Regions from separate parts of the Homo sapiens genome. Here all the other regions are reported to be linked to region 2. The links are microRNA targets in miRTarBase. Many come from high-throughput screens and were not tested one by one. Region 2 holds a microRNA gene; each other region holds the end of a gene's coding sequence.

What was found. The annotated mature microRNA hsa-miR-3612 reads AGGAGGCAUCUUGAGAAAUGGA and lies in region 2 at 1,967-1,988, shown strand. An mRNA with a match to its seed (bases 2 to 7 or 8) in the 3' UTR can be bound and repressed. Matches are read on the target gene's strand: a 7mer-m8 pairs with bases 2 to 8, a 7mer-A1 pairs with bases 2 to 7 and ends in A, and an 8mer does both.
Region 1: miRTarBase lists TBL2 as a target of hsa-miR-3612. Seed matches in the 3' UTR shown: 7mer-A1 at 1,015-1,021.
Region 3: the mRNA of HAUS3 is a reported target of hsa-miR-3612. Seed matches in the 3' UTR shown: 7mer-m8 at 788-794.

Annotation. Positions count from the first base shown.
Region 1 is chr7:73,567,806-73,571,159 of GRCh38, forward strand. It overlaps TBL2 (transducin beta like 2), which reads right to left. Exons shown (of 7, transcript NM_012453.4): 7 at 1-3,167. The coding sequence ends at 2,702. Among named protein-coding and RNA genes, the nearest start is that of TBL2, 9.1 kb to the right of the region's middle.
Region 2 is chr12:128,292,139-128,295,492 of GRCh38, forward strand. It overlaps MIR3612 (microRNA 3612), which reads left to right and starts at 1,954; the gene lies at 1,954-2,040. All of the region lies in intron 1 of TMEM132C (transmembrane protein 132C), which reads left to right.
Region 3 is chr4:2,229,319-2,232,318 of GRCh38, reverse strand. It overlaps HAUS3 (HAUS augmin like complex subunit 3), which reads left to right. Exons shown (of 6, transcript NM_001303143.2): 6 at 159-3,000. The coding sequence ends at 392. The region is part of intron 2 of POLN (DNA polymerase nu); the gene reads left to right. Among named protein-coding and RNA genes, the nearest start is that of HAUS3, 11 kb to the left of the region's middle.

The DNA of each region.
Region 1 (3,354 bases), not on the chromosome of region 2:
GGTGGGTAGCACAGGATTCATTCTTATTTTGCAGCTGAGGAAACAAGCTCAGAGAGGTCAACGGACCTACTATCTGCTCTCCAGCTGGAACTGGAACTGAAGACATCTGACTTCAGTAACTCAACATTCTACTGCCACTTCCTGTCCTGGATACACAACGGGAGTAATGCCAGAGCTGCTTCTAAGAACAGGTGCGCAAAGGAAGTGTTTTAGTCTCATTCTTCTGACAATTGCCAAGGAAATACTCCTCAGGCCTTGTGTGCACAGCATTGCCAAAAGTCTGTGGTTAGGAACATACAAAACCACAATGGAGACTGGGAGTGGGAAGATGCGCGGAGAAGATACTGGGAGGTCTGTGGCTTGCCCCTGGCTTGAGTTTCACATTGAGTGCTTACACTGTCCCAGGTACTGTGCCTGGACCACAGAGCTGACAGTGGGATGGTCCAGGAGTCTGCCCGGTGGTGCTCTCATTCCAGTGGGTTCAACAGTGAGCCAGAAGCTGCCAATAAGAGAGTAGTGGACTGCATCGGGCCGACCTTAGTGTTTTGTTTGGTCCAGATAGTGTTTAGTTATTTAAGTTGCTCACTTCTAGCTTCTGTGAAGCAATTTCTGCTGGATTCCTGAATAAGTAGCAGCCACCCCCCATCCTGCAGGCAGGACACAAGCCCGCCCTCCAGCTCACTTCTGTCCCCACCTTCTACTGCCTTACACCCAGGTAACTGACCCTTCACACATTTACGGTGCCCATCTGACATTCATAGCATTTAGAGGGGGGACGAAGCCAGGTTACACAGGACCTTGCAGGCCATGGTAAGAATTTTGGATTAAGTGTTTTTAGCTAGGCACGATGGCTCACACCTGTAATCCCAGCACTTGGGGAGGCCAAGGGGGGTGGTGGATCATTTGAGGTCAGGAGTTCGAGAGCAGCCTGGCCAACATCGTGAAACCCTGTCTCTACTAAAAATACAAAAATTAGCCAGGCGTGGTGGCACATGCCTGTAATCCCAGCTACTCTGGAGGCTGAGGCAGGAGAATCGCTTGAACCTAGGAGGCGGCGGTTGCAGTGAGCCGAGATTGCGCCATTGTACTCCAGCCTGGGTGACAAGAGATTGTCAGAAAAAAAAAATTGTTTTTACTATTTTTGGTTTAGAAAAATTCTTTTGGATTTTATTCCAAGTGTGATGGGAAGCCTTGGGGGGTTTTAACTAGGGAATAATGTGATCTGGTTCACATTTTCAAAAGATCATTCTGCTATATAGAAAAGTAATGAGGCAACAGAGGAAGCAGGAAGATCCATTAGGAAGCCATATTATAGTGGCCCACTAGGTGACAGTAGCCAGGACCAGGATGGTAACAGAAAAGCTGGAGAGAAGCAACAGCCTCAGGATGTCACATGGAGTGTAACCAAAAGAACGTTCTGGTGAACAGATGACAGCTGTGGTGGTGGGACAGAAGGGATAATGAATGGGGAGTCATCAAGGATAACTCCACGGTTGTGGCTTGTTCCAACATTGAGAGGTCAGGGGCAACCAGGGGGGGTCATAGTTTTCGTGAGAGAGATCAAGAGTTTGACTTGGGATGAATAAATTTGCCTACACTCAAGCCTTCCCAGATACCTCATTTCCCTTACCTGCCACACCCACGCAGCCTTCAAATTCACAAATTTAAACTTCTCAATACCGACTCTCTTATCAAATGTACCCCTTCAACTTCAATACCCATTGCCTCTGTCCTGCTCTGGTCCTCTCTTGCCTTGACATATATAACAATAGCTATGAATAAACTAACACAAAGCACTTAATAAGGGTGTATCTCTCTCTCCCACCAGCCATCTTTGATGGCAGAAACCATGTCTTATTCGTATTTAATCCCCAGCTCATATTTATTTGGGCACAGAGTGGGCACTCAAATATCTGATGAACTTGATGAACTGAAAAGAGGTCTCCTTAAACAAGATATCATCTCCCGAAGAGAGAAGTCCCAACCATATAAAATGTATGATCAAGTCCCAGAAAACTTTGCCTTCCCAAGGAATGTGTTTCTAATTTGGTTTCAAAGCACACTGGTTCCCACTTTTACCACTTTCATGACATTGGACAATAGTACTACTCTTTTCTACTTTTCTTCCAGACCTGGGGACTTGATATTCTCTTAGCCTCATATCATCTTTGCAAGGAGTTCACAGAGAGGATTATTCTCCATCTTACAAATAGAACTGAGGCCCAGAAGGAAATCCCTTAGTGTCTTTTTGATGGAACACAGTTCTGTGATGGGAAGCTATCCCAGTCTCCCATCCTTGCAAAACTGCTGCTTAGTACTCAGGTGTTCTCTAGGTTGTTCTGGAACATTTACAAACTTCTTTGGGTGTGAGGATGTGCTGCCACAAGGCCAAAAATCACATTCTCTCTCTCTCTCCTCTCCTCTCTACCATTCTCCTCAGTGCCAGGTGGGGACAGATTCCACCCACTGGGCCTGGGAGGAAGAAAAGCACCTTGGCCACTAGTCAGGGAGGAGTCACAGCCAGCAAGAAGAGAGAGACCTAAGTAGACAAGAGTAGTTTCAATGGGAAGAAGCAGGGCCACCAGTAAGAAAACCAGGAGACTCCTTCTGAAAGGCTTCCACCTGGGAGGAAAGATGGCAGCAGTGCCATGAGGAGGCCAGATCCCTCCTCCTCAATCCTCTGCGCCGGGCCCTCCCAGAGTCACTTCTTCAGGGCACCCAGGCTCTTCAGGGTCTCTTGGGCCTGGGTCAGCTGCTGCTGCAGCCTCTGGCGGGTGCTCTCGTTGGAGGCCCGCTTCAGGTGGCCCTGCATCTCCTCCACCATGGCTCGGTGGCCAGGAGTGTTGTGAAACAGCCGCACCGCCCGGTCCCCACAGGAGGCCAGAAAGCGGCCAGTGATGTCAAAGGACAAGTTGGCGATACACTCGCCATGGACCCGCTCAAAGCACTCCTCCTTCTCGCCCCGCCGGGTATTGTAGAGATGAATACTACTGCCACTGGCCAAGGCCAAGACCTGGGCGTTGGGGGAGAGGGCCAGGCGGCACGGCGCGGCACCCGCCGCCTCTTCAAAGCGGCCTGTCTTCAGCAAGTAGGGGTCCTGCTTCTTCTTGTATTCCACATCTGTGTCCCACAGTTTCCATGTACCATCCTTGGAGACAGAAGCCATCCTGCAACACAGAAAATCACAGCTCAAGCCCCAACACACCCTGGCAGGGTAAGCACTGGCCCAACTTGAGCAGCTCCAGCTAGGAAGCTAAGTCAGCTTCCTGCCGAGGGCCAGGCACCCCACCCTCTTCAGAGCCATGGCACAAACAGACAGAAGGACCCTGGTTGTCAAGAGGGGCCAAGAGCCAC
Region 2 (3,354 bases):
AGTAACTACAGCATTTTGTTTTGTTTTGTTTTTCTGGCTGAATTCTGACAAAATATCACTTTTTTCTTATGCACATTCAAGTTTGCTTTCTGTTTCTTGCAGTCAAAAGAATCGTGGTCAAACAGAATGAAAGGCAAAACTTAGAGGAAAGCCTTGGAAACAAAGCCGGCCTCCCTGAGATTCCTGCTGTGTACAAGGGAGACAGGCCCACACTTCCCCACCTGAACCTGTTTTTGACAATCCCTGCCCAACTTCCTCACCCAGCAGTTGTAAGAAATGGGTTTGTCAATGGTTTTTTCTAACTTGTTCCAGTAGAATGTAAGCTCCTCGTGGGCATAGATTTTGTCTCTGTTGCCAGTACTGAAACCCTGGTACCTAGATGAGTGCTGGGCACACAGCAGGTACTTTGTAAATATCTATTAAGTGTACTTAGTACCTAGGTACCCTAGTACCTAGATGAGGTATTCATAAGTGTCTGTTAAGTGTACTTAGTACCTAGGTACCTAAGTTCCTAGATGAGGTATTCATAAGTGTCTGTTAAGTGTACTTAGTACCTAGGTACCTAAATTCCTAGATGAGGTACTTCATAAGTGTACTTAGTACCTAGGTACCCTAGTACCTAGATGAGGCACTTCATAAGTGTCTGTTAAGTGTACAATAAGAACTGTGGATCATGACACAGTGGAATTAACTTGATAGACTGTTGCTGTCAGCAGTTTTCTTTCATAAACAGAATAGCATAGAAATTCTATTCCTAATAGAGCACATTTCACATGGTAGGTCTGTGTTTTCTGTGTGTTGGTGTAGGTATGTGTATGTGTGTGTGTGTATATGCAAGCACGAGCACCAACTTGTGTTGTAAAATGTGATTCTTACAGTAGACCTTGATTTTCAAAAAATTTGAAAGCCGGACAGCAAGATAATAGTTCAGCTTTTTGTGAACGGTAAGGAGTGTGCAAATCTGAACCTGTAGTGTCTCCTGGATTGCTGTCAGTGAGGACAGAGGATCCTCTTTAAAAACTGGGTCCAAACTCCCTCTGGTCTCATTTTGCACCTCTCCACAGTATAAACTCTCCTTTCCAACCATTCCAAATAACTTAATTCCCTAATCTCAGGGGGCCGTTTCATTGCAGAAATTGCTGCTTGTTCACAAACTTAGTAAGGTACTTAAAAAAGATTTTGTCATGGTTAATAAAAGTCACAGGGTAAATTGGTCTTATTTCTTCTTTTTAGTGCAAAATGTAATCCCTTCACCCTGATTGTTTTGCTTAGTTGTACACACCACCCATCGGGAGGCCAGAAAACTTGTATTTATTTCTAGAGCTACCTCCTTACAGAATTTCAAAGAACCTCGGGGCACTTGAGAATTGGTGTCCAGACAGGATGAATCATTTCTTCTTCAATCAGGATTTTTTATTTTATTTTATTTTGCTGGGGGATAAAGATAAAGATGATTGAACTTGTTTTATTTAGGGGAAAAACAGCCTCTCTTTGAACTCTTGATCTCCACTTCTCAGGAGTGGAGCCCATTTGTAAACTCTCAGGTCTCTCATTGCCTTCTTTGTCTCCCAACCTCCTAAGGTCGAGAGTGATTCTTTATGGCAAAGAGTGAGCATTCTGGAGACTGCACAGCCTCCTCTGAACAAACTGGAGCATATATTTCCCGCATCGTCTCTGTCACCTCCCTGGGTTTTATTTTAATTGCCATGCTTTTCAAAAGCACAATTCCTATTAAATTATTCATGGTGGTATAATGTTTATGTGATCAGAGTAATTATTATAATTACGCATTGTGAATTTTCATAATTAATGACCTCACTCGGATTTCATTTGGTGCAGAATATTTCCGAAGGGGAATCAGGTGGTTGTGTCTGCTGGGGGAATCAGAATGGAATAAAATGGTGACCTATCTTGGGTTTTGCAGAGCAGTAGAAACTTCAGTCATTCACTTTGGGGACTGGGGATGAGGAGGCATCTTGAGAAATGGAAGGAATGGGATCTACTTCCAGTTCACTAGAGGCGTCCTGACACCCCTAGCTCAGCATCTTCCTCTGTGAACCGCCCATGGGAAGGTGTCCAAAGGTGTCCTAGTAGAACAAGCCTAGCAGACCAACAGGAGCAAGGAGACCAGACACGCGTCTCACTTTTGGGGCTTTTGAATGAGACTGGGGCTTACCAAATCTGCAGAAACCAGCCAACAATGCTCAACAGCAGCAAAACCACACTTCAGTGACTCACACAGCAAGGTGGCCCTAACAGGACTCAGGCTTCAGCTGACTTCCTCTCCCTCTCTAATTCTGGAAAGAGTAGAAAATGCAAGCCATTGGAGAAATGGCTGGTGGCACTCTGAGCATGGGAAGAAATTTGATATTTTATGATTGGCACCTGTCTTAGTCTGTTCTAGTTGCTCTAACAAAATACCAGAGACTGGGAAGCATCTAAACAACAGGAATTTGTTTCTTGCAGTTCCAGAGCCCAGAGATCCAAGATCAGGACACCAGCAGATTCACTATCTGGTGAGAGCCGGCTTCCTGGTTCATAGACAGGGCTTCTCCCTATGTCCTCTCACAGTGGAGGGGAGAGGAATCTCCCTAGACCCTTTTATAAGGGCCCTAATCCCATTCATGAGGCTCCACCCCCGTGACCTCATCACCTCCCAAAGGTACCACCTCCTAAGACCTCCATTCTGAAGAGGAGGATTTCAACACATGAATTTTCAAGGAACAAAGACGTTTAGAACACAGCCATTTTGTAGTCAGATTTCAAATATTTTAATGCCTCCATTTTCCTCATCTTTGACTTGTATCTGAGGAACCAATGCTTGGTGTGAGCCCTAAATAAATAAATAATAGATAGATAGATAGGTAGATAGATAAGAAGTTCAAGCTTCTTTGTCCCCCAGCAAAAAAAAAAAATTAAAAAATTGAGAAAGAAATGATTTATCCTGTTTCATCCTGTTTTGTATACAAATAGATGCCAGTACTCAAGTGCCCCAAGGTTCTTTGAAATTCTGTATGGAGCTAGCTCTAGAAATAAATTTATATTATGTTTGAGACAGGGTCTTGCTCTGTTGCCCAGGCTGGAGTGCAGTGGCACAATCACAACTCACCGCAGCCTCGAACTCCTGGCCTCAAGCAGTCCTCCTGCCTCAGTCTCCCAAAGTTATGGGATTACAAGTGTGAGTCAACACACCCAGTCCCAAAATAAATATTTGGTATAGCTATAGCTATTCACTAAGACCTTTCATCAGCATCATTCCCTCTCAGCCTCAGACCTACTTGAGGGGAAGGCAGTTCCATCCCCATTTTACAGATGAGAAAACTGAGACGTGTAGGGTCACATGGAAAATAAATA
Region 3 (3,000 bases), not on the chromosome of region 2:
TAAACCTGTTATGGATTTTAAATCGAGGTTTATTTATTGCTAAAATTGCGGGAAGTTATTAAGTCCTTTAAAGTCTTTCCATGTAAATTATATTTTAATTTTATAATTGGTATTAGGAATAAAGTGTTTTAATTTTTATTTTTATTTTCCTTTTTTAGGAGTTAACAGAGCAGTTTCATAAAGTTGAATCTCAACTGAATAAGCTAAATCATCTCCTCACTGATATTCTTGCTGATGTGAAGACAAAAAGAAAAACTTTGGCAAATAATAAATTACATCAAATGGAAAGAGAATTCTATGTATATTTTTTAAAAGATGAAGATTATCTGAAAGATATTGTGGAGAATTTAGAAACTCAATCAAAGATTAAGGCTGTTAGTCTTGAAGATTGAAAATTACTGAAAACTGAATCTTTATTACGTGTCCTCTTTTATTTATTAGAAGACTGTGTATAATAAACACTACTAAATTTTTAAAATTTGAGGTCAATGGAACATTTAATTTGATGAATTGAACTATTATATTAATTTGTCTTTTTTCTCATGTAGTACATTCAGAATACCAGTGCTTTTTATGACTTGAGCATGTGTTTAGTGGTACTTAGTCCTGGTAATTTTTTACTTACAGGGAAAAAGCATTATTACATAATGCAAATATTTTTTAATATAGTTATCTCTCTCCTTTTTAGAAATAGAAATTTTCTGCCGTTAAATTTTTTTTTGAGATAGAGTCTCACTCTGTCTCCAGGCTGGAATGCAGTGGCACGATCTTGGCTCACTGCAACCTCTGCCTCCCGGGTTCAAGTGATTCTCCTGCCTCAGCCTCCCAAGTAGCTGGGACTACAGGCGCACACCGCCACACCCAGCTAATTTTTTTGTATTTTAGTAGAAAAGGGGTTTCACCATGTTGGCCAGGATGGTCTCAATCTCTTGACCTCTTGATCCCCTCTCCCGGCCTCCCAAAGTGCCGGAATTACAGGCATGAGCCACCACGCTCAGCCGCTATTAAATATTTTAAAATGTGTAGAACTTCTAGTCAGCATTTTTAAATCTGTAGACCTTAATATGTGAAATAGCCAAGTCCCCTCATGTTTGACTGTCAAATAAAATTCTGCTGCTCAAATTGTATTCCTCCATAATTCCCTGCTATAGACCTTTAGGCTGTTTTAATGTCCCTACTTGTACCACAGAGTATTAGGACTTCCTTGGCCTGCCTGCATTCATTTTAGAGTCTGAATTCTGGGGACTCAAAAGTTTCTACAAGACAGCTGAGCAGTGCTTTGACTTTAATGTGACTTACACATCATAAATGACTTTCAAATGAAATTTGAATTTCAAAATTCTGTAAAAGTGGTTGCTCAAAAGATGTATGATACTATTTTAATCAGTTTAAGAGCAAAAATGTCTAATTGTATTTAACAATGGTATTTGGGCAGCCAGAAAATATTTTAAGCGTTGCTCTAAAATAATTTGAAGTAGCTCATCTGTTATTACATCAGATGCTTCTTGAGTGCCCAATTTATACATGGCCTGTGGTAAATACCATGTGAGCTTTGTAGGAATACCTTTAAGAATATTCCTCACCTGTTCGTAATATGGAATGCCAATCTAAAAACTACATGTTTTGGGTGGTCTTTATGGAATTTTTTAGCTATAACCATCAGAAAACAGGCATACCTAGATGACAGATGAACCTTCTTGATTTTTGAAACCCATTGAACAAAAATATTTTGCCAATTATTGTGTTTATGTTATTTAAAATTTTATGTAAACCTTAATTTTGTAGCAGTAAATTTTGTTTAAGATTTTGCTATCAGCTCCCTATCACCTGAGCAACTTTTTTTTTGTTGTATATGTTTTTTTCTATTCTATTTCGGAATAGAGAATTTACTTAAAATTTTTATTTTCTCCAAAAATGTGGAAAATATGTCACCTGGTTTCCTGGTTTATGGTAGCATATTCTGTTTAAATTAGTGTCACATATTTAGATGTGTGGCCAGACGCTTGATTTATTAGTTAATTTTTGAGACAGAGTCTAACTGTGTCACTCAGGCTGGAGTTCAGTGGAATGATCTCGGCTCACTGCAACCTCCGCCTCCCAGGTTCAAGTGATTCTCCTGCTTCAGCCTCCTGAGTAGATGGGATTGTAGGCGTGCACCACTGCACCTGGCTAATTTTTGTATTTTCAGTAGAGACGGGGTTTCACCATGTTGGTCAGGCTGGTCTCAAACTCCTGACCTCAAGTGATCTACCCGCCTTGGCCTTCCATAGTGCTGGCATTACAGGTGTAAGCCACCATGCCCCTGCCCAGATGCTTGATTTATACTGTCCCCACCCAAACCTTGACTTGCTCAGCCCAGGGGGCCAGCAGGGCAGATCAAGGCACGGATGGTAGTTGTGTGTCTGCCGTAATTACCCAAGTTACTTATAATCGTTGTGTTACTAGGTAGGTTTATTTGAAGATTTATTTATTTATTTATTTATTTTTTATTTTTTGAGACGGAGTTTCACTCTTGTTGCCCAGGCTGGAGTGCAGTGGCATGATCTCAGCTCACTGCAACCTCTGCCTTCTGGGTTCACGTGATTCTCCTGCCTCAGGCCTCCCGAGTAGCTGGGATTACAGGTGCCACCATGCCTGGTTAATTTTTTGTATTTTTAGTAGAGACGGGGTTTCATCATGTTGGCCAGGTTGGTCTCGAACTCCTGACCTCAGGTGATCCACCCGCCTCAGTCTACCAAAGTGCAGGGATCACAGGCATGAGCTTCCGCGCTCAGCCTATTTGAAGATTTAATAACATTTTTCAAACCTCAGGATGTATTTGAGTAGATTGCTTCTAAATTGGTCACCTAGAAAATAAGTTATCTATTTACTATGATACCTGGATTAAGCCTCTAGCTATTTTGCTTTTTTCTTTCTATCTATATTATTGGATGATTGATGCCTATTTTCTGTGGTTATGAATATAGACATTTTAAATGAAAGTTGGTATATAAATTTTTG